Linked DNA regions of Homo sapiens. Each later gene encodes a partner of the first gene's protein in a complex. Each region holds a gene or a part of one and is shown in the gene's direction. Other genes may lie near its edges.

The links.
Region 2: the proteins of GNAQ (region 1) and F2RL1 are in contact, whole or in part, in a cryo-EM structure (PDB 9D0A), measured with the Homo sapiens proteins. Residues at the interface, in NP_002063.2 of Homo sapiens: Arg37, Ile323, Tyr325, Asp346, Ile348, Leu349, Gln350, Asn352, Leu353, Glu355, Tyr356, Asn357, Leu358, Val359; in NP_005233.4 of Homo sapiens: His108, Pro109, Ala110, Met114, Gln172, Arg173, Val176, Ile177, Pro180, Met181, Gly182, His183, Ser184, Arg185, Met265, Met268, Leu269, Met274, Asp275, Asn277, Lys280, Lys281, Arg284, Ala285, Leu288, Ile289, Tyr344, Tyr345, Val347, Ser348.
Region 3: the proteins of GNAQ (region 1) and PLCB3 are in contact, whole or in part, in a cryo-EM structure (PDB 8UQO), measured with the Homo sapiens proteins. Residues at the interface, in NP_002063.2 of Homo sapiens: Pro185, Thr186, Thr187, Ile189, Glu191, Pro193, Arg202, Gln209, Arg210, Ser211, Glu212, Arg213, Arg214, Lys215, Trp216, Ile217, His218, Val240, Glu241, Glu245, Glu249, Glu250, Ala253, Leu254, Arg256, Thr257, Ile258, Thr260, Tyr261; in NP_000923.1 of Homo sapiens: Pro257, Arg258, Leu259, Asn260, Glu261, Val262, Leu263, Arg707 (codon at 964), Asp709 (codon at 970), Lys710 (codon at 973), Ile719 (codon at 1,000), Asp721 (codon at 1,006), Gly722 (codon at 1,009), Ile723 (codon at 1,012), Val724 (codon at 1,015), Ala725 (codon at 1,018), Ser845 (codon at 2,245), Asp846 (codon at 2,248), Tyr847 (codon at 2,251), Ile848 (codon at 2,254), Pro849 (codon at 2,257), His852 (codon at 2,266), Tyr855 (codon at 2,500), Ala856 (codon at 2,503), Ala858 (codon at 2,509), Leu859 (codon at 2,512), Ile860 (codon at 2,515), Asn861 (codon at 2,518), Pro862 (codon at 2,521), Ile863 (codon at 2,524).
Region 4: the proteins of GNAQ (region 1) and CCKBR are in contact, whole or in part, in a cryo-EM structure (PDB 7F8W), measured with the Homo sapiens proteins. Residues at the interface, in NP_002063.2 of Homo sapiens: Arg30, Arg34, Asp35, Arg37, Arg38, Leu40, Ser198, Val199, Phe341, Lys345, Asp346, Ile348, Leu349, Gln350, Asn352, Leu353, Lys354, Glu355, Tyr356, Asn357, Leu358, Val359; in NP_795344.1 of Homo sapiens: Thr87, Val88, Thr89, Asn90, Glu151 (codon at 317), Arg152 (codon at 320), Ala155 (codon at 329), Ile156 (codon at 332), Pro159 (codon at 341), Leu160 (codon at 344), Ala162 (codon at 350), Arg163 (codon at 353), Val164 (codon at 356), Trp165 (codon at 359), Gln166 (codon at 362), Thr167 (codon at 365), Ile241 (codon at 895), Leu245 (codon at 907), Gly248 (codon at 916), Leu249 (codon at 919), Val331 (codon at 1,372), Leu335 (codon at 1,384), His394 (codon at 1,561), Arg396 (codon at 1,567), Phe397 (codon at 1,570).

The regions. Positions count from the first base shown.
Region 1 is NC_000009.12:77,715,582-77,720,836, reverse strand, and holds the end of GNAQ (guanine nucleotide-binding protein G(q) subunit alpha), read left to right. Parts: 3' UTR 1-4,740; downstream 4,741-5,255.
Region 2 is NC_000005.10:76,822,006-76,829,045, forward strand, and holds part of F2RL1 (proteinase-activated receptor 2 preproprotein), read left to right. Parts: intron 1-7,040. UniProt on the Homo sapiens protein: Receptor for trypsin and trypsin-like enzymes coupled to G proteins.
Region 3 is NC_000011.10:64,261,524-64,268,457, forward strand, and holds the end of PLCB3 (1-phosphatidylinositol 4,5-bisphosphate phosphodiesterase beta-3), read left to right. Parts: intron 1-57; coding exon 58-142; intron 143-428; coding exon 429-553; intron 554-662; coding exon of another isoform or gene 663-736; exon of another isoform or gene 737-843; intron 844-883; coding exon 884-1,038; intron 1,039-1,123; coding exon 1,124-1,285; intron 1,286-1,974; coding exon 1,975-2,074; intron 2,075-2,167; coding exon 2,168-2,272; intron 2,273-2,497; coding exon 2,498-2,589; intron 2,590-3,427; coding exon 3,428-3,581; intron 3,582-3,668; coding exon 3,669-3,704; intron 3,705-3,786; coding exon 3,787-3,979; intron 3,980-4,362; coding exon 4,363-4,516; intron 4,517-4,602; coding exon 4,603-4,679; intron 4,680-4,791; coding exon 4,792-4,881; intron 4,882-4,971; coding exon 4,972-5,029; intron 5,030-5,661; coding exon 5,662-5,748; intron 5,749-5,829; coding exon 5,830-6,033; 3' UTR 6,034-6,400; downstream 6,401-6,934. UniProt on the Homo sapiens protein: Catalyzes the production of the second messenger molecules diacylglycerol (DAG) and inositol 1,4,5-trisphosphate (IP3).
Region 4 is NC_000011.10:6,269,819-6,272,648, forward strand, and holds the end of CCKBR (gastrin/cholecystokinin type B receptor), read left to right. Parts: coding exon 1-102; intron 103-269; coding exon 270-519; intron 520-827; coding exon 828-985; coding exon of another isoform or gene 986-1,192; coding exon 1,193-1,725; 3' UTR 1,726-2,309; downstream 2,310-2,830. UniProt on the Homo sapiens protein: Receptor for gastrin and cholecystokinin. The CCK-B receptors occur throughout the central nervous system where they modulate anxiety, analgesia, arousal, and neuroleptic activity.

The DNA.
Region 1 (5,255 bases):
ATTTAAGCCATCATCAGCTTAATTTAAGTTTGTAGTTTTTGCTGAAGGATTATATGTATTAATACTTACGGTTTTAAATGTGTTGCTTTGGATACACACATAGTTTCTTTTTTAATAGAATATACTGTCTTGTCTCACTTTGGACTGGGACAGTGGATGCCCATCTAAAAGTTAAGTGTCATTTCTTTTAGATGTTTACCTTCAGCCATAGCTTGATTGCTCAGAGAAATATGCAGAAGGCAGGATCAAAGACACACAGGAGTCCTTTCTTTTGAAATGCCACGTGCCATTGTCTTTCCTCCCTTCTTTGCTTCTTTTTCTTACCCTCTCTTTCAATTGCAGATGCCAAAAAAGATGCCAACAGACACTACATTACCCTAATGGCTGCTACCCAGAACCTTTTTATAGGTTGTTCTTAATTTTTTTGTTGTTGTTGTTCAAGCTTTTCCTTTCTTTTTTTTCTTGGTGTTTGGGCCACGATTTTAAAATGACTTTTATTATGGGTATGTGTTGCCAAAGCTGGCTTTTTGTCAAATAAAATGAATACGAACTTAAAAAATAAAAGCTGGTATCTTAAAATGTAAGAGAGTAAGACTGTGAAGCCTAAAATGACTGGCTGAGAATGAACCAGAAATGCCATTTGCCAAACAGTTGTAACTAGAAATTTGATTCTCACGGTCCATTCTTTTCTTTGTCCTTAAGATGACATTGTTAGTGTTCACGTCCCATGTTCAGTGTCCAAACCGGCAATGTAAAAAGTATCCTGTGTGGTTTAACAGGAAATCTGTTTATGTCTCTTTATTTGAAACCAGTTTTACTCTCAGTGGTTCTTTAAGTTCAATGAAGTCTGCCAGGAACATTGGTTGGTAGTATTATTCCGACACCTTTAATTTCCAAAATCTGAAGTTCCTGCTAGTTTACCACCTTCATGATCTTCTTGAACTGGTAACTGATTAGGTTGAACTTATGGAAGATTTGTGGACTTAACTCAAAAGTAACCTCTCAGTGTTCTATAGAACATGTATTTGTGTAACTGAACCTACCAGGAGAAATGTTTGGAATTCTATATGTGCAATTTTTCAACAAATGCAAAAAAAATACAGCACATGTATTGACAAGCTTCTGTCAAGCAGCTTGAGTTGAAATTTGATTTAAGAAAATAAATCATGATTGTTCAAAGCTGCTGGGACGTTAGAATTAGGCCATGATACTGGTCTCATTTTAACTACAGTGGTATTTGGCACTAGTGTAAACTTCCATATAAATCACTCTTTTGGAACAACAAAGGGGGAGGGAGAAAAATCACGGCCTGTTAAATGAGTACCAAAGCCGCCCAACAGTAATGAGATGTTCTCATCCTTGATTCTCCCAGCCTCAAACAACACAGCTTACTTTTTTTTTCCCTTGCTCAGAAAGTACCTGTAATTTAACAAACAGACTGCCTGTAGGTATAGTGCAATTACAAATGCTCTAATCATTGTACATACATCTCTCTTGATATTGCAGCATCCATACTGGCTTTGTAATCATTAATTTTTTGGCAGATTGAATGTGCTGTATTGATATGTATCTATGTAATTGTATTGTATGTCTATAGCTAATTCACGTTTTGAATAATGTTATTTTATTTACTTTTTTAAGAGAGGAGAATGTAAATTTGTCAGTTTATTTCTGACTAGGGATATTTTCTTTCCATTTAGAAAAGAAGAAAAAAAAAAAACCTTACTGTCATACAGAGCGGTACTAGCGTCGTGCTGTATAAAATCATTTGCACATTCCTGAGTAGAGGTATACTGATTATAAGACCCAAAGGTAATTTCATAGCAAAATACATAAAATCAGTCGGAGCTTTTATACAAACATGGAAACCAACTTTGTAGAACTTTTGCCATTTGATCTAGGATTGGAATATGAGCTTTTATACAATTCATATTCTTATTTGGCAAATGCACAGTTTAGTATTACCTCTCTGATGGCCTTTACTAGAAAGGCAGTTTTAGAAGCTATTGTGATCCACTAAGGAAATGTTTTAACAGCTAGAGACCACTGCTTGCCTGAAAGGGCGTTCTTAAATTTGGTGCAGCAAAAAAAAAAAAAAAAAAAAAAAAAATTAAACAACAACATTTGAAGGCCTACAGTGTGTATAGAGAAAACCTCATCACAAGATCATAAGTGTTACAGTTTTAGGGAATCAAGATATTCTATTTAATAGAGCTATAGTAAATGTAGTCAATTAAACCTGATCTCAAAGCTTGAAGAAGCTGAGCAAAACAGGGAAAGATTGTTATATTTGTCTTTATGAAATTGGGATGGAATTTGCTATGCAGAATTGAGGTTTGTGGCTTCGCTGTTCCTGTAGGGTGCATGACAAGATCCCTTCTCTTGAGAAAGGAAAAAATTGATCACCCTAGCAGCAGTGATGCATAGAAACCTAATTTTAGCCACACCAGTCAATCGAAGCTAAAGGATTTTCTTTTTTGTTTCTTCGGGGTTTTATTGAAGGGGCTAGGGGCGGGACGGGATTCTTTTCAGTTTTGTATAAAAACAAAGTTTACTCATGCTTTATATTATATTGTGATTGCAAGCGTTATAAGCGTGTGCCACTGGCCTCCTATTGTTGATGCTTAGGTAATGGAGGCCTGTGGTGAGTTTTATGGTGACTTGGGCATGTCTTATTCAAAAACAAAAACATAAAACACAGAAACCTTTCTTCAGCATACCAAGGCAAGCAGCCATTTCATGACTCACTTAACACATTGCAGTGTACCAGTTTACAGATGATTTTTCCCTTTTTGCGTGACATGGCAGTTCTAACCCCCAGAGAATTCCTTATTTGTAAATTGGAAGTTTCTACTATGCCTTACAGAGCTTAAATTCAGAAGTTTGTGCCTCATATCTGAAACAAAGGGAAATAACACACCCATTCAAAAGTAAATAAATCTCCTAGAAGTTTTTGTTTTTAACATTTCCATATAAAGAGCTCTGTTGAATGTCATGAATAGACTGGAAAAAAAAATTTTAAGAACCTGCATATGTTGTTTACTAGCAGATGACAACTACAAAAGGAATCTGAAGAACACGTAAAACTTGTATTTTTTTTTTTTTGGTAGATTAACTAGCAGGCCTATTTTAAAAAGGTAATTCAGCTAAAGGGCAATTTACTTTTTTGTACTTCAGACTATCTTGATTGTCAAAGTGTACGAACTGTAATTTTAAAATTTATACTGCCACATGATTGTAAATTTTAGTTGTCTTAAGTTAGGAATTGGTGAAAAGCTATTTATGCTGGATTTGGGTCAAAATGACTTATTTGCAAAAAAATAAATAATGGGAAGAAAGGGCTGTATAATGAAATACTGCAAGACTCACATATTGGTTGGAAATTTCCCTCAAATCACCTACCGATTACCCTTGATTTCCCTTTGTTTTCAGTTTCTCAAAACGAATGAAATGAAATATAGCAGAATGTTAACCCATATAAAAATAAAGTGTACCCAAATATTGTAATGTATATTGCTGCTCTTCTTCAAATTAAATAAGGGTTTAAAACCACTTAATTGGTAATCAACATCTCAATTGATACAAATAAGGTGTGCTTGGTATACATTAATATTTTCTTCCAAAGATATATCTTTGGTTAGAAACACAAAAAAATAAAACTAGTAATATTGTATGTTTATCTATCTCTACATATTTCCAGCATATGTAGCGTTAATAGATCTGTCCTGGTAACTGTGTCTTTGGGATTTCATTTTGGTTCCATCAAATTAGGAAAAGAAATGGCTTAGTTGTATATGATTAGCTAGAGATTTTTGGAGCCAGACACCTGCTGTTTAGTAGATAACTTAGTACAGACCCTAAACTTGTCATTTGTTTTTCTCACAGAATAGCCATTTCCTGCTGTCTTCCCAATGATCACTGCCCTTTCAATAACACTCTTGCCTCTAGAATCATATGTTCAAAGTATGAATACACACCTAGCACATAGTAGGTGCTCAAATATTAATTTCCTCCTTGCCTTCCTTATCTACCCTGTGTCCTCCATTTCCCCGTATGATTCCAACCCAATATAGCAAATGACATTTACATGTTATGAAAACATCTATTGGGTAAAATCAGATCTTGGATAAAGAAATTCTGACTTTTATATAAGCTTTTGGTAGACAGAAAAAACAGAAAGGTATTCGTTGGTAGAACATTTTTAAGTTCAGGAAAGAAAGCTGGAATAATACTACGTAACTTTGTCCAGGTTACTTTGACTGAAACACGTTTTTGGTGGATTTCTTTTCCTCAAAGAACTCTCTAAATGCAACTCCTTGCTGGATTCCTCACCCATCATCCTGTTGGAAACCCTTACTAGACCTATGTATTTAGGGAGTTTTGTCAGAAAACATTTTTAACTTGCAGTATTTAAAAGAATATTTACTGTTCCTAAAATGTCATTCAAATGCATGTACTGTCTATTGTTTGGGGATGGGAACTAGTTTTGCAAAAAACACCTAATGTTGTATAATAATGCCCCAATGATCTTGCTGGTTAAAAATACAGTATTTTTGGCCATAATTTTGTACTATAGTATTCTTCATTGTTGAGTTTTGCTTCCATTAAAGTTGCCCGAGCCCCTCTCAGAATGTTTTGTATTAGTAGGAGTACTGAAATACATCTTTCCTTCCTTAACACACCTTGTGCATATTGCATTTTCCAAAATAAACAAGTTTAATGGTTTCAAAAAAAAAAAAACACCAAAAAACCTTTTCCCTTCTGTGTATAATCAGAAATAAGAGTCTCCTGTAGTGGAAATACACATATTGGTAGCATTTATCAAATTTGCTCTTTGAAAAAACTTGCCTTAATTTAGGTTATAATTAACTGGTTAAAAAAAAAAGTAAATACCTATCCAATAAAGAAAGGAGCCAGCAATCTTCAACCTGAGGCAGTCTCCCAATCAGTAAAAAGAATCCACACATCTGCCCTGGTTTACTGGGTAGCACACTGGACTCAGGCCAATGGCTGGCTTAAGAGTTTTGCCCATTTCAACACTGGCAGTGAATAGGTAGACTCCACATGGGAAAAATGACATGTCACAGGTGTCCTCTCTGAGTTTTAGAAACACATCCAGGCTTTTGAGGTCAGCTAAAAATCAGCTGCTCCTGGGAGTTTTATTAAGTGGAGGTGATGGTGGCAAGTGGCTTTCTGGAAAATAGGTACTTTTGTGGGGACTTTAAGCCACAGCAAAAGCAAAACCTGTTCCTGTT
Region 2 (7,040 bases), on another chromosome or scaffold:
ATTTCGGCTTATATATTTTCCCACTCTTTATTACATCCATGCACAAAATATGTATTCACAAATACAGAAAATATGTTTGTGCAAGTATGGGATTATATAAGCACATCAGTATCATGTCAATACATATAAAACATTTTTAATGACTCCAAAATGTTACAGAAGGATGCATCAATTTTAAAATTAGTCCTTTGTTGATAGACATGTGGTATTTCCATTTTTTTTTTCCCCCTGAGATAGAATCTCACTCTGTTGCCCAGGCTGTAGTGCAGTGGCACGATCTCGGCTCACTGCAACCTCTGCCTCCCAGGTTTAAGTGATTCTCATGCCTCAGCCTCTGGAGTAGCTGGGACTACAGGCGCACACCACCACATCCAACTAATTTTTGTGTTTTTGGTATAAACGGGGTTTCGCCACGTTGGCCAGGCTGATCTTGAACTCCTGACCTCAAGTGATCCACCTGCCTCAGCCTCCCAAAGTGCTGGGATTATAGGCATGAGCCACCGTGCCTGGCCAAAGTTTTGTAATATGACAGAACACTGCAATGAACTGGAAGATAGGACTTTAAATTTGATCCTTTTGCTTGCTTTGTAGTTACTAAATAACCTTGATAGATGATGTTTTAGTAAATCTGTATTTGACTTTCTTATGGTTTTATTAGCTTGGCAAGTGTTGAAGAAAACAGTTCATTCTGAAAGAACACTTCTGAAAATGTACTAAAAGTTTAGCTAGGGAGGGGCACCCCACAATTGAAACCTTTATTTTTCAGTCTGTGCTCCCAAAGATTGGGAGCAAAAAAGGACATTTGGGGTGAGGGGATCATAGAGAAGAGAGGGTGAAAGGAAGAGAACTAATGCAAGTAAAGTGCTTGTTTTACACTTGGTTTGATGGGGAGGTTGGGCCACAAGAGGAGTATACTTAAAATAAAAATTAAATTAAAAGTTTTAGGCCAAGCGTGGTGGCTCACGCCTGTAATCCCAGCACTTTGGAAGTCAAGGCGGGTGGATCACAAGGTCAGGAGATCAAGACCATCCTGGCTAACATGGTGAAACCCTGTCTCTACTAAAAATACAAAAAATTAGCCGGGCATGGTGGCGGGCGCCTGTAGTCCCAGCTGCTTGGGAGGCTGAGGCAGGAGAATGGCGTGAACCCGGGAGGTCGAGCTTGCAGTGAGCCGAGATCGTGCCTCTGCACTCCAGCCGGGGCAACAGAGTGAGACTCAGTCTCAAAAAAAAAAAAAAGTTTTACACGCAGATTTTCCCAAAATTGTGTAAATCAGAAGGGTCTAAAAAAAAGTGAAAATCTCTCATTCTTTCTGGTCTCCAATCTCAGCACAACTTCTCGGGTTTTGTTTGTTTGGTTGGTTGGTTTTTTTTTTTTTTTTTTGAGATGGAGTCTCGCTGTGTCGCCCAGGCTGGAGGGCTGGAGTGCAGTGATGTGATCTCAGCTCACTGCAACCTGCGCTTTCCAGGTTGAAGTGATTCTCCTGCCTCAGCCTCTCAAGTAGATGGGATTACAGATGCGCGCCAACACCTCCAGCTAATTTTTGCATTTTTAGTAAAGCCAGAATTTTGCCATGTTGGCCAGGCTGGTCTTGAATTCCTGACCTCAAGTGATCCGCCCGCCTTGGCCTCCCAAAGTGCTGGGATTATAGGTGTGAGTCACTATTCCTGGCCATCAGCTCAACTTCTCTATGCACAAATGATTTATAGGAATAGAAGGAGCATACCGTACTGTACATACTGTGCTATGATTTATTTATCTTTTTTACCTAATCGATTCATAGTCAGTTTATAGAAATCTGTACAAACTTTTTTTTTTTTTTTTTGAGACGGAGTCTTGCCGTGTCGCCCAGGCTGGAGTGAAGGGGCGCTATCTCAGCTCGCTGTAAGCTCTGCCTCCCGGGTTCATGCCATTCTCCTGCCACAGCCTCCCAAGCAGCTGGGACTACAGACGCCCGCCACCATGCCCGGCTAATTTTTTGTATTTTTAGTAGAGACAGGGTTTAACCGTGTTAGCCAGGATGGTCTCGGTCTCCTGACCTCGTGACCCACCTGCCTCGGCCTCCCAAAGTGCTGGGATTACAGGCGTGAGCCACTGCGCCGACCCTGTACAAACTTTTATAGGGGGGTAATTGAACTAGTCCTCCCCACCACACCCCCCCCCCCTTTTTTTTTTAAAGAGACTGGGTCTGGCTGTCACCCAAGCTGGAGTGCAGTGGCAGGATCATAGCTCACCCCCAGCTAATTTTTTTTTTAGACGGAGCTCCCAAGTAGCTGGGGCTATGGCTAGGTTGCCACTATGCCTGGCCTGAACTACTCCCCTCTTCCCGCCCATCCCCGAACCCCAGATGAAGTCTTGCTCTGTCACCCAGGCTGGAGTGCAGTGGTGTGATCTCAGCTCACTGCAACCTCCGCCTCCCAGGTTCAAGCCTCCCAGGTTCAGCCTCCCAAGTAGCTGGGATTACAGGTGCCCGCCACCACACCCAGCTAATTTTTGTATTTTTAGTAGAGACGGGGTTTCACCATGTTGGCCACGCTGATCTCAAACTCCCGATCTCATGATCCGCCCGCCTTAGCCTCCCAAAGTGCTGGGTTTACAGGCGTGAGCCACCCTGCCAGGGCCTGAACTACTCCCCTTTTTGATAGATGTTGAAATTAACATTGTTTTACCATGCTAAACAATGTTCCAGTGAATATTCTAGTACATAAAATAGCTTTGTGCACTTTAGCTGGTAGGTGCAGGGCAAATTCCTAGAAGTAAATTGCTAGGTCATATGGCAAATACATTTAAAATTTTGATATGTTTTGCCAAATTACCCACCAAAAATATTATATCAATTTATATTCCTTTGAGATACAAAATTCAAATAATATAGAGAGGTGTAAAATAAAAAGAAAAGTTCTCTTGTCCCCAGCTATTCTACTCCACAGAGCCAGCCACTTTTTATTGTTTGGTGGATATCCTTCTAGACTTCAGATTTTGCAAATTGTACATTATAATTTTTTTTTTTTTTTTTTTTTGAGACAGAGTCTCACTCTGTTGCCAGGCTGAAGTGCAGTGGCATGATCTCGGCTCACTGCAACCTCTGCCTTCTGGGTTCAAGCGATTCTCCTGCCTCAGCCTCTGGAGTAGCTGGGACTACAGGCGCGTGCACTACACTTAGCTAATTTTTGTATTTTTTAGTAGAGATTGGGTTTCACCATGTTGGTCAGGATGGTCTCGATCTCTTGATCTCAGGATCCACCCGCCTCGGCCTCCCAAAGTGCTGGGATTACAGGTGTGAGCCACCATGCCTGGCCAGTTTCTTTTTTCAATTGACTGTATATTGTGGCTGTCTTTCCATTTCAATATTATTGGCTACTATATTGTCTACCCTTAGTAGTAGGGACTACGTCAGGGACATGCTAAGTTAGGAATAGAAATAAGGAGCTGTTTGTCTGTAACTGAGTGGGGGGATGCTGCCTTGAGCATCTGTGAGTGTGTATTTTCACACACTTGGGCAATAATTGTTTATTACAGCCCTAGAAATGGGAATGTAATTGTAGCCAGGCACTTTATTTGTGTTTAAACTTCATTTGTGCATTTAGTCTCTCCTCAACTCTGTGAAATAGAAATGATTTTACCTGGTTGACAATTGGGAGCTGGGATAGCATCGGTTCTCTAGACAAGCTCTGTGAGTTTTGGTGAGTGGTAAGGACCCTGTACAGAGTCAGAGCAAATGCACTGGGCAAGGGCTTCAGGGACCTTCGAGTAGCATCTTGACATTTACCAGTGTTATAGAACAGTTAATATCAACAATAGTTTTGATGGAGACCATTAAAGGTTATGTGTTGAAATATTCTAAGAAAAAGTTCCTTTTTAAAAAAAAATTGTTATATTGCCATTCCTTGCTCCTTTTTTGGTCTTTATTTTAGCATTCTTATTTAAAACAGATTTTGAGCACTCTTTATGTGAGCTTTCCTGACTTGGTACATGCTTATTTTTATGGAGAATTTTAATCTTATAGAAATATACTATTATAGTGAATTAAGTGTATCCACCACTCAACTTCAATAATTATTAACTGTTGGCTAATCTTGTTTCATCTATTCCCAAACTCACCTCCCACTCCTCTTCCCTGTTATTTCTTTTCTGTTTTTTTCCCTTTCCTATGATGCCAAGCCTGTGTTTTTTTTTTAACAGCTTTACCAAGAATTCCATATCAGATAATTTGCACACCATACAATTCACCCCTTTAAACTGTACAATTTAGTGGCTTTTAGGATGTTCATAGAATTATTCAACCATTACCACAATTTTAGAACATTTTTATTACCCTGGAAGAAACAGTTTAGCTGTCATTCACCAATCTTCTGGTCTTAGCCCTTGGCAAACACTAATCTACTTTCTATTTATGGATTTGCCTATTGTAGACATTTGATAGAAATGGGATAATGTGTTGTCCTCTGTGACTGGCTTCTTTCACTTAGCATAATCTTTTGGAGATTCATCCATGTATCTATGTATCAGTACTTTTTTTTTTTTTTGAGACAGAGTCTTGCTCTGTCACCCAGGCTGGAGTGCAGTGGTGCAATCTCTGCAACCTTTGCCTCTAGTTTCAAGTGATTCTCCTGCCTCAGCCTCCTGAGTAGTTGGGACTGTGGGCCCACACCACCACCTCTGGCTAATTTTTGTATTTTTAGTAGAGACTGGGTTTCACCATGTTGGCCAGGCTGGTCTTGAGCTCCTGACCTCAGGTGATCTGCCTGCCTCAGCCTCCCAAGTACTTGATTTTTGAAAACAGCCAAATAATATTCCATTGTATGGATATACTGCTTTTTATTTCTTTTCAATTGTTGATGGACATTTGGATTGTTTCCACTTTTTTTTCCTTTTTTTGAGACAGGGTCCTGCTCTGTTGCCCAGGCTGGAGTGCAGTGGTGTAATCTCTGACCTCCTAGGTTCAAGCTGTCCTCCTGCCTCAGCCTTCCTAGTAGTGGGACTACAAGTGTGCACCACTATGCCTGGCTAATTTTGTAAAATGTTTGTAGAGATGGGGTTCTGCTCTGTTGCCCAGGCTTGTCTCAAATTCCTGGCCTCAAGCACTTCTCCCATCTCATCCTCCCAAAGTGATAGGATTACAGGTGAGCACCACTGTGCCCAGCCCACTTGTTGACTGTGGGCTGGGCACAGTGCTATATTATAATGCTGCTATGGCTGGGCGTGGTGGCTCACGCCTGTAATCCCAGCACTTTGGGAGGCCGAGGTGGGCGGATCACAAGGTCAGGAGATCGAGACCATCCTGGCTAACACTGTGAAACCCCATCTCTACTAAAAATACAAAAAAAAAAAAAAAAAAAAAAAATTAGCCAGGCGTGGTGGCAGGCGCCTGTAGTCCCAGCTACTGGGGAGGCTGAGGCAGGAGAATGGCATGAACCCGGGAGGCGGAGCTTGCGGTGAGCCGAGATCGCGCCACTGCACTCCAGCCTGGGCGACAGCGAGACTCCGTCTCAAAAAAAAAACAAAAACAAATAATGCTGCTATGAACATTTGTGTACAGGTTTTTGTGTGGACTCCTGCATACCTGGGAGTGGAGCTACTGGGTCATATAGTAACTTTTTTTTTTTTTTTTTTTTTTGAGACGGAGTCATGCTCTGTTGCCCAGAGTGCAATGGCACAGTCTAGGCTCACTGCAACCTCCGCCTCCCAAGTTCAAATGATTCTCCTGTCTCAGCTTCCCGAGTAGCTGGGACTATAGGCGTGTGCCACCACACCCAGCTAATTTTTGTATTTTTAATAGAGATGGGGTTTCACCATGTTAGCCAGGTGGGCTCAAAACCCCGACCTCGTGATCTGCCTGCCTCAGCCTCCCAAATTGCTGGGATTACAGGCGTGAGCCACTGCGTCCAGCCATATAGGAACTCTTTAACCATTTGAGGAACTGCCAGATAATTTCCCACAATAACTGTACCTTTTATTTTATTTTATTTTATTTATTTTAAATAGACATGGTTTCACTCTGTCGCCCAGGCTGGAGTGCAATGGCGTGATCTTGGCTCATTGCAACCTGTGCCTCCCGGTTCAAATGATTCTCCTGTCTCACCCTCCCAAGTTGCTGGGATTATAGGTGTATGCCACCACACCTGACTAATTTTTGTATTTTTAGTAGAGATGGGGTTTCACCATGTTGGCCAGGCTGGTCTCGAACTCCTGACCTCAGGTGATCCACCCACCTCGGCCTCCAATAGTGCTGGGATTAGAGGTGTGAGCTACTCTGCCCAGCCGTGCACCAGTTCGTATTCCTACCAGCAGTGTCTGAGAGTTTCAATTCCTGTGGTTGTGAAATAAATCTCAGATATAATTTCATCCTAAAGTATTTTAGAATGTATTAATAAAGTATGAGGGATTTCTTTTTCAAATATAAACATAATGCCATTATAGTATCTACTAACATTAATTTTTAATATAATCAAATATTCAGTCAGTATTCAAATTTCTTTCTTTTTTTTTTTTTTTTAATATAGAGACAGGGGCCTCACTCTGTCACCCAGAGTGGAGTGCAGTGGCACAATCTCACTGAATCATTGAACTCCTGGTCTCAAGTGATCTTCCTGTTTCAACTTTCCAAGTATCCAGGACTACAGGTGTGCGCCACCATGCCTGGCTAATTTTTTTTTTTTTTAATTTTTTGTAGAGACACGGTCTTGCTATGTTGGCCAGGCTGGTCTCAAACTCTTGGCCTCGAGCAATCCTTCCACGTCAGCCTCGCAAAGCACTGGGATTATAGGCATGAACAACCGTGCCTGGCTTTGTGTTCAAATTTCTAATTGTCTTATAAATGTTATTTTAGGCCGGGTGCAGTGGCTCATGCCTGTAATTCCAGCACTTTGGGAGGCTCAGGTGGGCAGATCACTTGAGATCAGGAGTTCGAGACCAGCTTGACCAACATGGTGAAACCCCATCTCTACTAAAAATACAAAAATTAGCTGGATGTAGTGGTGTGCACCTGTAATCCCAGCTCCTTGGGAAGCTGAGGCAGGAGAATTGCTTGAACCTGGGAG
Region 3 (6,934 bases), on another chromosome or scaffold:
GAGCTTGCCCAGCTCAGCCCTGCCAGGTCTGACGCCCTTTCTTGGCTCACCCCTAAGAGAGGAACAAATGCTTCGAGATGTCGTCCTTTGTGGAGACCAAGGCCATGGAGCAACTGACCAAGAGCCCCATGGAGTTTGTGGAGTATCCTTTGAAGGTGCTGTGGGCGGGCAGGCCAGGGTGGGGCGCTCGGAGGCCGGCTCCGGTGTTCTGTCCCCACATATGCCACCTGCACAGGGTGCTGGCCCTCCGGCGGCCCTCCTGCACCCTGGCCTGGGGCTTGGGCAGATCCAGGCAGTCTCAGGGGGCATGGCTAGGCTAAGAAACAGAGGCCGGGTGTGGGGGTCACAGGAGCACCTGGCTGAGGCCGGAGGTGGAGGCTGATGGGGTGGGCCCTGGCACCTGTGTGGCCCCTGACCACCAATCTCAGATACAACAAGCAGCAGCTCAGCCGCATCTACCCCAAGGGCACCCGCGTGGACTCCTCCAACTACATGCCCCAGCTCTTCTGGAACGTAGGGTGCCAGCTTGTTGCGCTCAACTTCCAGACCCTCGGTGAGCCCTGGCCCCCTCCATCTTGACCCCGACCCTCAGTCTTACTGACTTCTGACCCACGATCCTGCTGGTCTTGCCTGAATGGACCTCTGACCCTGTCTCATCCCAGATCCCAGGGGAACCCAGCTCCCGACTCACCCCGCCTCCTGCCCTTGGCTGATACCAGACCCCTCCCCTGTCTGATCTGTCCTGGATCCGGACCCTGATGCCATTTGAGCCCGCCCCTGACCCTGGACCTTGGATGCCATCTGACCTGATGATCTCCCATTCCCCACATGGCACCGTCCTGCCTGATCCCTGCCCCTGCTCGACGTGCCCGTGGCACCCCAGATGTGGCGATGCAGCTCAACGCGGGCGTTTTTGAGTACAACGGGCGCAGCGGGTACCTGCTCAAGCCGGAGTTCATGCGGCGGCCGGACAAGTCCTTCGACCCCTTCACTGAGGTCATCGTGGATGGCATCGTGGCCAATGCCTTGCGGGTCAAGGTGGGGCTTGCGGGCGGCTCAGGCCAGGGGTGTCCTGGGGGCAGGACTCTCAGCATCCGCCTCACCCTCCTTGGCCCACCCCCAGGTGATCTCAGGGCAGTTCCTGTCCGACAGGAAGGTGGGCATCTACGTGGAGGTGGACATGTTTGGCCTCCCTGTTGATACGCGGCGCAAGTACCGCACCCGGACCTCTCAGGGGAACTCGTTCAACCCCGTGTGGGACGAAGAGCCCTTCGACTTCCCCAAGGTGAGCCTGGCCCCTGCACCCGCCCAGGCACAGGCAGATCCAGCCCAGACCGCCCCGACTCTCAGGTGGGAGAACAGGAACCAGGCACACCGTTGGCGACTGGGGATCAGAAAGTGGGGGGTGCCATGGGTCCCCCAGGACCTGCCTGTCCGAGCGTCAGTCTCCCTGCCCTCCTTAGGGTAAGAGACCAGGGTGAGAAGGTGAGATGGGGGTTGGGGGGTGTCAGCTAGACGTCTTGTGTCCCCTGCGAGGAGTGGACACAGCCTACCCTGTCTCCGAGGCAGGAGCTGAGGTCACAACCCCAAGCTCATATCCGCTCTTCAGCACCCCGCACGGCCCTGCATGGACGCGGCCTCTGCTCCCAGCCTGGGCATGTGTGTTCTTGGTTTCCTGCTCATGACTCACTCCCGTTTCTAAACTGGCAATGACCAGAACTGTCTGTGGGGGCCCTGGAGGGGCCTGGCTGCCTGTCATCTTGCCTCAGGGTCCTGATGGCTGCAGTCATCCATTAGGCCAGGACATGGAAGTGGGGTCAGCCATCAGCTTAGTGGCAATGGTGACTGATGGTCAGTAGGTCAGCTCGTCTGAAGGTCTGCTTTGTTAAGCTTTGATGGCTGTGGTTAGCTGTGGCCTGGTAGCCACAGTGGCCCAGGGTCAGCCCTGTGGCTCAGCTCCAGTCTGGCCCACAGGTGGTGCTGCCCACGCTGGCTTCACTTCGCATTGCAGCCTTTGAGGAGGGGGGTAAATTCGTAGGGCACCGGATCCTGCCTGTCTCTGCCATCCGCTCCGGTGAGGCCTTGGTGGGCTCTGGGCAGCACAGCGGGCAGTGGGTAGGGCCCCCACCTGGCCCAGCAACCCAACGTTGCCTTCCTGACCACCCAGGATACCACTACGTCTGCCTGCGGAACGAGGCCAACCAACCGCTGTGCCTGCCGGCCCTGCTCATCTACACCGAAGCCTCGGACTACATTCCTGACGACCACCAGGGTGAGCTGGGGGTGGGCGGGGCCTGCCTGGCCAGGGAGTGTGAGGGACAAGGGCCACCCCCAGGGCCTGGGAGTGGCCGAGCTGGATGGCCCCGACTGAGTAGGGAACTGAGTAGGGAACAGATCTGAGGACAAGCTCTGGAATTCCTCATTGAGACCAGAGGTGGCGGGTGGGGGTGGCCTGGGGGCTCTGTCTCTGAGACCTTGGCCTTCTGCCTCCCCCCAGACTATGCGGAGGCCCTGATCAACCCCATTAAGCACGTCAGCCTGATGGACCAGAGGGCCCGGCAGCTGGCCGCCCTCATTGGGGAGAGTGAGGTGAGCCGGGGCAGGGCAGGGCTCAGGCTCACTGTGACCCAGGGGGCCGCTGGACATGACTGCTGTGGCCACATGAGGAGGGGGCTTCTGGTCTCTCTAGCGCAGTAGGCTTGGCAGCCCTGGGATTTTGAGGAGATGAAAACCACCCATTTGCATTCAGGAGGCCTTCAGGTCACACCTGGGCTGGAATTCCTCCAGCTCCATGTAGGCTTGGAGTGGGGGTACAGGGGTCTCAGCCACTTCATCAGGGCAGTGCGAAGCCACAGAAGCTGTTCAGACGTGGTGTCCTGGGAGTCATGAGGAGGGCAGTGGCTTCCGTGGGGAGGGGTCAGGCACGGAGGTTCACCTGCGCTTCCAGATCCAGTCCCCCCAGGGCCTGCGGCAGGCGGGCGGGGAGAGATGACTGCAATTAGGGCTGCCTGGAGCTGTTAGCGGAGAGGCTGGTGCCCACTCTGCGGTTGAGTCCTCTGTTGATTTAATCAGGAGCTCAGCAGCAAGGAAAATGAGCGACTGTAGGCAAGGCTGGGGGACACAGGCAGGGGAGGAGAGGAGGCTTGGGGCTGGGCCAGGCCTTTCCAGAACAATCTGGGAGTTACTGAGCACATGCAGTGGGCTGGCATTATGTTATCTTCCCCACAGCCCATGTGGAAAAGGGGTTTAGAAAGGCTTGATTTATAGCTCTTCTCATGCAGACAGCCTCCTGTTACAGAGCAGTCCAGCAGTGGCTTGGACTAAGGGAGGCTGACAGGGGTGCTAGGGGACCCAGGAGGTGGTAGAGGACAGAAGGGTCTGGAGGGAACAGCATTTCTGAAAAGAGCATTCTCCTTTCTCCCTATAGGCTCAGGCTGGCCAAGAGACGTGCCAGGACACCCAGTCTCAGCAGCTGGGGTCTCAGCCGTCCTCAAACCCCACCCCCAGCCCACTGGATGCCTCCCCCCGCCGGCCCCCTGGCCCCACCACCTCCCCTGCCAGCACCTCCCTCAGCAGCCCAGGTAAGGAGTGGCCTGGGTCGGGGGTGGGCTGCAGGGAGGCACCCCCCACCCTGTCCTCCAGCTCCTCACAGGGCCTCTGCTCCCCAGGGCAGCGTGATGATCTCATCGCCAGCATCCTCTCAGGTAGGGGGCGGGGTACCTGGAGGCAGGGGGCTGCCTTGCAGGTTCCCCCACCCCCCGCCCACCTTTGCTCTGCCGCTCCCAGAGGTGGCCCCCACCCCGCTGGATGAGCTCCGAGGTCACAAGGCTCTGGTCAAGCTCCGGAGCCGGCAAGAGCGAGACCTGCGGGAGCTGCGCAAGAAGCATCAGCGGAAGGCAGTCACCCTCACCCGCCGCCTGCTGGATGGCCTGGCTCAGGCACAGGCTGAGGGCAGGTGCCGGCTGCGGCCAGGTGCCCTGTGAGTGTCTGGGCCGCCTGTGTGCTATGTGTGCTGGGTGTGCTGATGTGAACATGGGGGTCGGTGGGCATGGAGAGATGGCAAGAGCTGCTCCTTGACCCCCAGGGAGGAGGGTTCAGTGCAAGGATGGAGGAGGCTTTCCACACCAGGCGTCCCTGTGTCCCCCAGGGAGTGACATCTCTTTTGAAGTCCATGAGGAGCATGTTGCCCAAACAGGCTCCCATCACTTGGGTGGAGCTAACAGGCCTCCTGGTTTGCATAACAGACCTGGCCCCATGGGATGGTGTCTGCCATCGCTTGCCAGGATGTGCCCCCCTACACACCCTCCCCATCCCAGTCCATGTGACGGGCCCAGGCATCACCCAGAGGGGTTCTCCTCGCAGAGGTGGGGCCGCTGATGTGGAGGACACGAAGGAGGGGGAGGACGAGGCAAAGCGGTATCAGGAGTTCCAGAACAGACAGGTGCAGAGCCTGCTGGAGCTGCGGGAGGCCCAGGTGGACGCAGAGGCCCAGCGGAGGCTGGAACACCTGAGACAGGTAGGGGGCCTGCAGTGGCCAGGGAAAGCCTGCTGGATAGACCCGTCGTCAGCCCGGCATCACCTGTCAGCTCCCTGTGTCCACAGGCTCTGCAGCGGCTCAGGGAGGTCGTCCTTGATGCAAACACAACTCAGTTCAAGAGGCTGAAAGAGATGAACGAGAGGTGAAAGCCGAGGATTGTCTATGGGAAGGGCTGGGGACTTCTAGTACCAGAAGGAGGGCAGAGTCTGTGCTTCTGCCGCTGACCCCTCCTCTTCCCCTGCCGGCTTCTCCAGGGAGAAGAAGGAGCTGCAGAAGATCCTGGACAGAAAGCGCCATAACAGCATCTCGGAGGCCAAGATGAGGGACAAGCATAAGAAGGAGGCGTAAGGGCACCGGGACCGGGGGCCATCTGGGTACTGGGGAGGCAGGGCAGGTGTCTGGGCCCCGAGCCATCCTGCGTTGCTCCCGTGCAGGGAACTGACGGAGATTAACCGTCGGCACATCACTGAGTCAGTCAACTCCATCCGTCGGGTGAGTCAGGCTCCCGGGCCACCCTACCCCACCTCCCTTCCTTCACTCATCAGACACCCATCTCCATGCCTGGCCTGGTGCCACGTTGCCCTCAAGGTTCTTCTAGGGCCTTTCTCAAGTGCCCAACAGCCCCAGGGTACCCACATCATACCCAAAGCCAACTGTCTGTACCAGTGTCCCTGGCTTTGGCGTCCTTGGGCCCAGTCCTCTCACAACCCTGATACATTGCCCTGGGAGCCTTCGCCCACCTGACTTCTTTTTCTTTGAGACAGAGTCTCACTCTGTCGCCCAGGCTGGAGTGCAGTGGCGCGATCTTGGCTCACTGCAACCTCTTGGGTTCAAGCAATTCTCTTGCCTCAGCCTCCCGAGTAGCTGGGATTACAGGCATCCGCCACCATGCCTGGCTAATTTTTTTATTTTTAGTAGAGATGGGGTTTCACCATGTTGGCCAGGCTGTTCTCGAACTCCTGACCTCAGGTGATCCGCCCGCCTTGGCCTCCCAAAGTGCTGGGATTATAGATGTGAGCCACTGCACCCGGCCTCGCCCACCTGACTTCTATACCCAGCCAGAGCCTCGAGGCTCTAGCCCCTCCCTCAGGGCCCCTCAGCTGAGCCCTTGCCCACCCCTGTAGCTGGAGGAGGCCCAGAAGCAGCGGCATGACCGTCTTGTGGCTGGGCAGCAGCAGGTCCTGCAACAGCTGGCAGAAGAGGAGCCCAAGGTGAGGCCATGGGCGAACAGGTGGGCAGACGGGGTGCAAGGCAGCCAGGCCTCGCCTGTGATGCCCATCCTTCTCCCACAGCTGCTGGCCCAGCTGGCCCAGGAGTGTCAGGAGCAGCGGGCGAGGCTCCCCCAGGAGATCCGCCGGAGCCTGCTGGGCGAGATGCCGGAGGGGCTGGGGGACGGGCCTCTGGTGGCCTGTGCCAGCAACGGTCACGCACCCGGGAGCAGCGGGCACCTGTCGGGCGCTGACTCGGAGAGCCAGGAGGAGAACACGCAGCTCTGAACTGGCTGAGCGAGGTGGCCACAGGGCCAGGGCGGGCGCTGGGTGGAGGGCAGGAGGCAATGACACTAATGCTTTTTTTTTTTTTTTTTAACTTTTTATCTAGAAATTTTATTTTTTTAAACCCGGGGCAAGTACCTCAGCTAACTCCCTTCATCCTCCTGGGGCCCCTCCTTCCTGCCCTCAGTCTTAGGTTAGGGCCTTGGTCAGGGCTTTGCTCCCTGTGACACCCACACCCTCGAGCTAGCAGCGTCTCCTCCCTTCCCCGGGAGAGCTGGCTGGAGACTTGGAGCTCCGGGAAGTAGGAGTCACATTTTTTTCTCTATTCTTTGGGGATTTTTTTTACATGAATAAAAGTGGATTTCAGGGACCCTGTGTGCAGTGTGATTTGGGGTGACAGGACTCTGGGCCCTAAGTTTCCTCATCTATAAAATGGACTTTGGGCATTTGGTGGGGTTGAGGTCACGCCTCCAGCCAAGGGCTGCTGGGTTGAACCTGAGCTTGCCCTGCCGAGTCTGCTGAGCTTCCGTGGCCTTCTGCTTGTGCCCTCTGCCCCCAAGCCGCTGTTCCTGTTCCCCCATCCCCATGACTTTCGTCTCTCCGAGGCTCTCCCTGTTCTCTCTTTTCTGAGGCTCAGGCCTCTGCTTCAGGAAGCCTTCCCTGCCCCGCTTCCTGTGGCCTGATATGACCCAAACGCCTAGTATCTTCCGCTGGGGCTGCTCTGGGCCCCCGACAGGCAGTTGACTCTATCAGGTGATGGATCGGCCAGGGTGGAGCAGGGCAGCTCAGAACCTGCCCAACACCGGGGGACCTGGGTCTTCAGAAATAGGTGGGCAGTAGGCCTGCCTGTGACTCTGGGGGAAGGGAAGTGGACAGTCACAGACACGCAGGGGCTGGGCCACCC
Region 4 (2,830 bases), on another chromosome or scaffold:
TCCTGCTGGCTGTGGCTTGCATGCCCTTCACCCTCCTGCCCAATCTCATGGGCACATTCATCTTTGGCACCGTCATCTGCAAGGCGGTTTCCTACCTCATGGGTGGGTGAGACAACCACCCCACCCCCACTTGCCACTCTCCCCGCCTAAAGCTCTTGTGGATGTAGGGGTCTTCCCCGGTTGGCAGGGAGGGGTGTGAGGAAGTCCCACTGATGCTTGTGTAGTGCAAGTTTCCTAGGTGACTCCTTCCTTTCTCTTCCCTTGTTTAGGGGTGTCTGTGAGTGTGTCCACGCTAAGCCTCGTGGCCATCGCACTGGAGCGGTACAGCGCCATCTGCCGACCACTGCAGGCACGAGTGTGGCAGACGCGCTCCCACGCGGCTCGCGTGATTGTAGCCACGTGGCTGCTGTCCGGACTACTCATGGTGCCCTACCCCGTGTACACTGTCGTGCAACCAGTGGGGCCTCGTGTGCTGCAGTGCGTGCATCGCTGGCCCAGTGCGCGGGTCCGCCAGACCTGGTGAGCTTGCCCATAAACTATCCTAGGAATTCCTTTCTCACCCCTATTAGATGCTTACGACCATTGCCCAGAATCTTCCTCCAGCTTCCCGGAGAATTACCACGCCAACTCCTATTCTGCATCCACCACCCTGGAGTTCCAGTTTGGGGCCCCTCCCCAGTTCTCTCTCCCTTCCCAGCGGCACCCCCAAATCCTACTCCTACTTCAGGTACCTGGCCACAGCCCTAGAAACACTAGTCCTTGGCTTTTTCTCCATCTGTGATTACAGCTGGACAGAAACCCGAGTGATCTGTCTGTGTTGCCTTCAGGTCCGTACTGCTGCTTCTGCTCTTGTTCTTCATCCCGGGTGTGGTTATGGCCGTGGCCTACGGGCTTATCTCTCGCGAGCTCTACTTAGGGCTTCGCTTTGACGGCGACAGTGACAGCGACAGCCAAAGCAGGGTCCGAAACCAAGGCGGGCTGCCAGGTGGGGCTGGACCACGTGAGCAAAATCTGGGCGAGGCGGAGCTTTGGAGGGCGACGGGGCCTGCTGGAGTGGGTGGGACTGAAATGAAGGTGAGGGTGAGAAGGAAGCTGGAAATGGAGTTGAGCTGGGAGCGGAGGTCAGGTGGGGACTGGGCTGGAGACTGGGGGGACTCGCCTTTTTCTCTGACCGCCCACCCTTTGTGCTCAGGGGCTGTTCACCAGAACGGGCGTTGCCGGCCTGAGACTGGCGCGGTTGGCGAAGACAGCGATGGCTGCTACGTGCAACTTCCACGTTCCCGGCCTGCCCTGGAGCTGACGGCGCTGACGGCTCCTGGGCCGGGATCCGGCTCCCGGCCCACCCAGGCCAAGCTGCTGGCTAAGAAGCGCGTGGTGCGAATGTTGCTGGTGATCGTTGTGCTTTTTTTTCTGTGTTGGTTGCCAGTTTATAGTGCCAACACGTGGCGCGCCTTTGATGGCCCGGGTGCACACCGAGCACTCTCGGGTGCTCCTATCTCCTTCATTCACTTGCTGAGCTACGCCTCGGCCTGTGTCAACCCCCTGGTCTACTGCTTCATGCACCGTCGCTTTCGCCAGGCCTGCCTGGAAACTTGCGCTCGCTGCTGCCCCCGGCCTCCACGAGCTCGCCCCAGGGCTCTTCCCGATGAGGACCCTCCCACTCCCTCCATTGCTTCGCTGTCCAGGCTTAGCTACACCACCATCAGCACACTGGGCCCTGGCTGAGGAGTAGAGGGGCCGTGGGGGTTGAGGCAGGGCAAATGACATGCACTGACCCTTCCAGACATACGAAACACAAACCACAACTGACACAGGAAACCAACACCCAAAGCATGGACTAACCCCAACGCACAGGAAAAGGTAGCTTACCTGACACAAGAGGAATAAGAATGGAGCAGTACATGGGAAAGGAGGCATGCCTCTGATATGGGACTGAGCCTGGCCCATAGAAACATGACACTGACCTTGGAGAGACACAGCGTCCCTAGCAGTGAACTATTTCTACACAGTGGGAACTCTGACAAGGGCTGACCTGCCTCTCACACACATAGATTAATGGCACTGATTGTTTTAGAGACTATGGAGCCTGGCACAGGACTGATTCTGGGATGCTCCTAGTTTGACCTCACAGTGACCCTTCCCAATCAGCACTGAAAATACCATCAGGCCTAATCTCATACCTCTGACCAACAGGCTGTTCTGCACTGAAAAGGTTCTTCATCCCTTTCCAGTTAAGGACCGTGGCCCTGCCCTCTCCTTCCTTACCCAAACTGTTCAAGAAATAATAAATTGTTTGGCTTCCTCCTGAACTTCCTTTCTGGATTCTTCTGGGGCAGGTGAGGAGGCATAGGATTTTGCAGTATCCTTCTGTCGGGTCTCTCCCACTGTTGCACACTGCTGTGCACAACCCCTTGCCAGAAAGCCCAGCCTCTGAGGTTCAGCGTGGCTGTGCATATTCTTTCTGAGTTTTCATCCTCTACCTACATTCCAATGTTGCAATAACTGTGAATGGGGATGGAAAATGGCATATCCATGACATATCATGATTCCTGATCACATTATCCCAAAGTGGTGCCACTGTTAAGGTACTATATTAATGGATGCTTATTAAATTTTGATGAAAAGATAAAAGAGGAAGCACTGTATAATAAGACTAAGTTTATTCAATGTGTGTTTGAAACACCAGAGATCAGACCATGACAGGTATACAGAATGAATACAGTTAATTAAAGAGTAGGGATTTTTTGCTGTACTCTCTTCCCCAGTGTCAAAACCTGGCCAAGATTCTGCCAAATGGAAGCACTTTTAGTAGCTACAACAAAAAAAGACC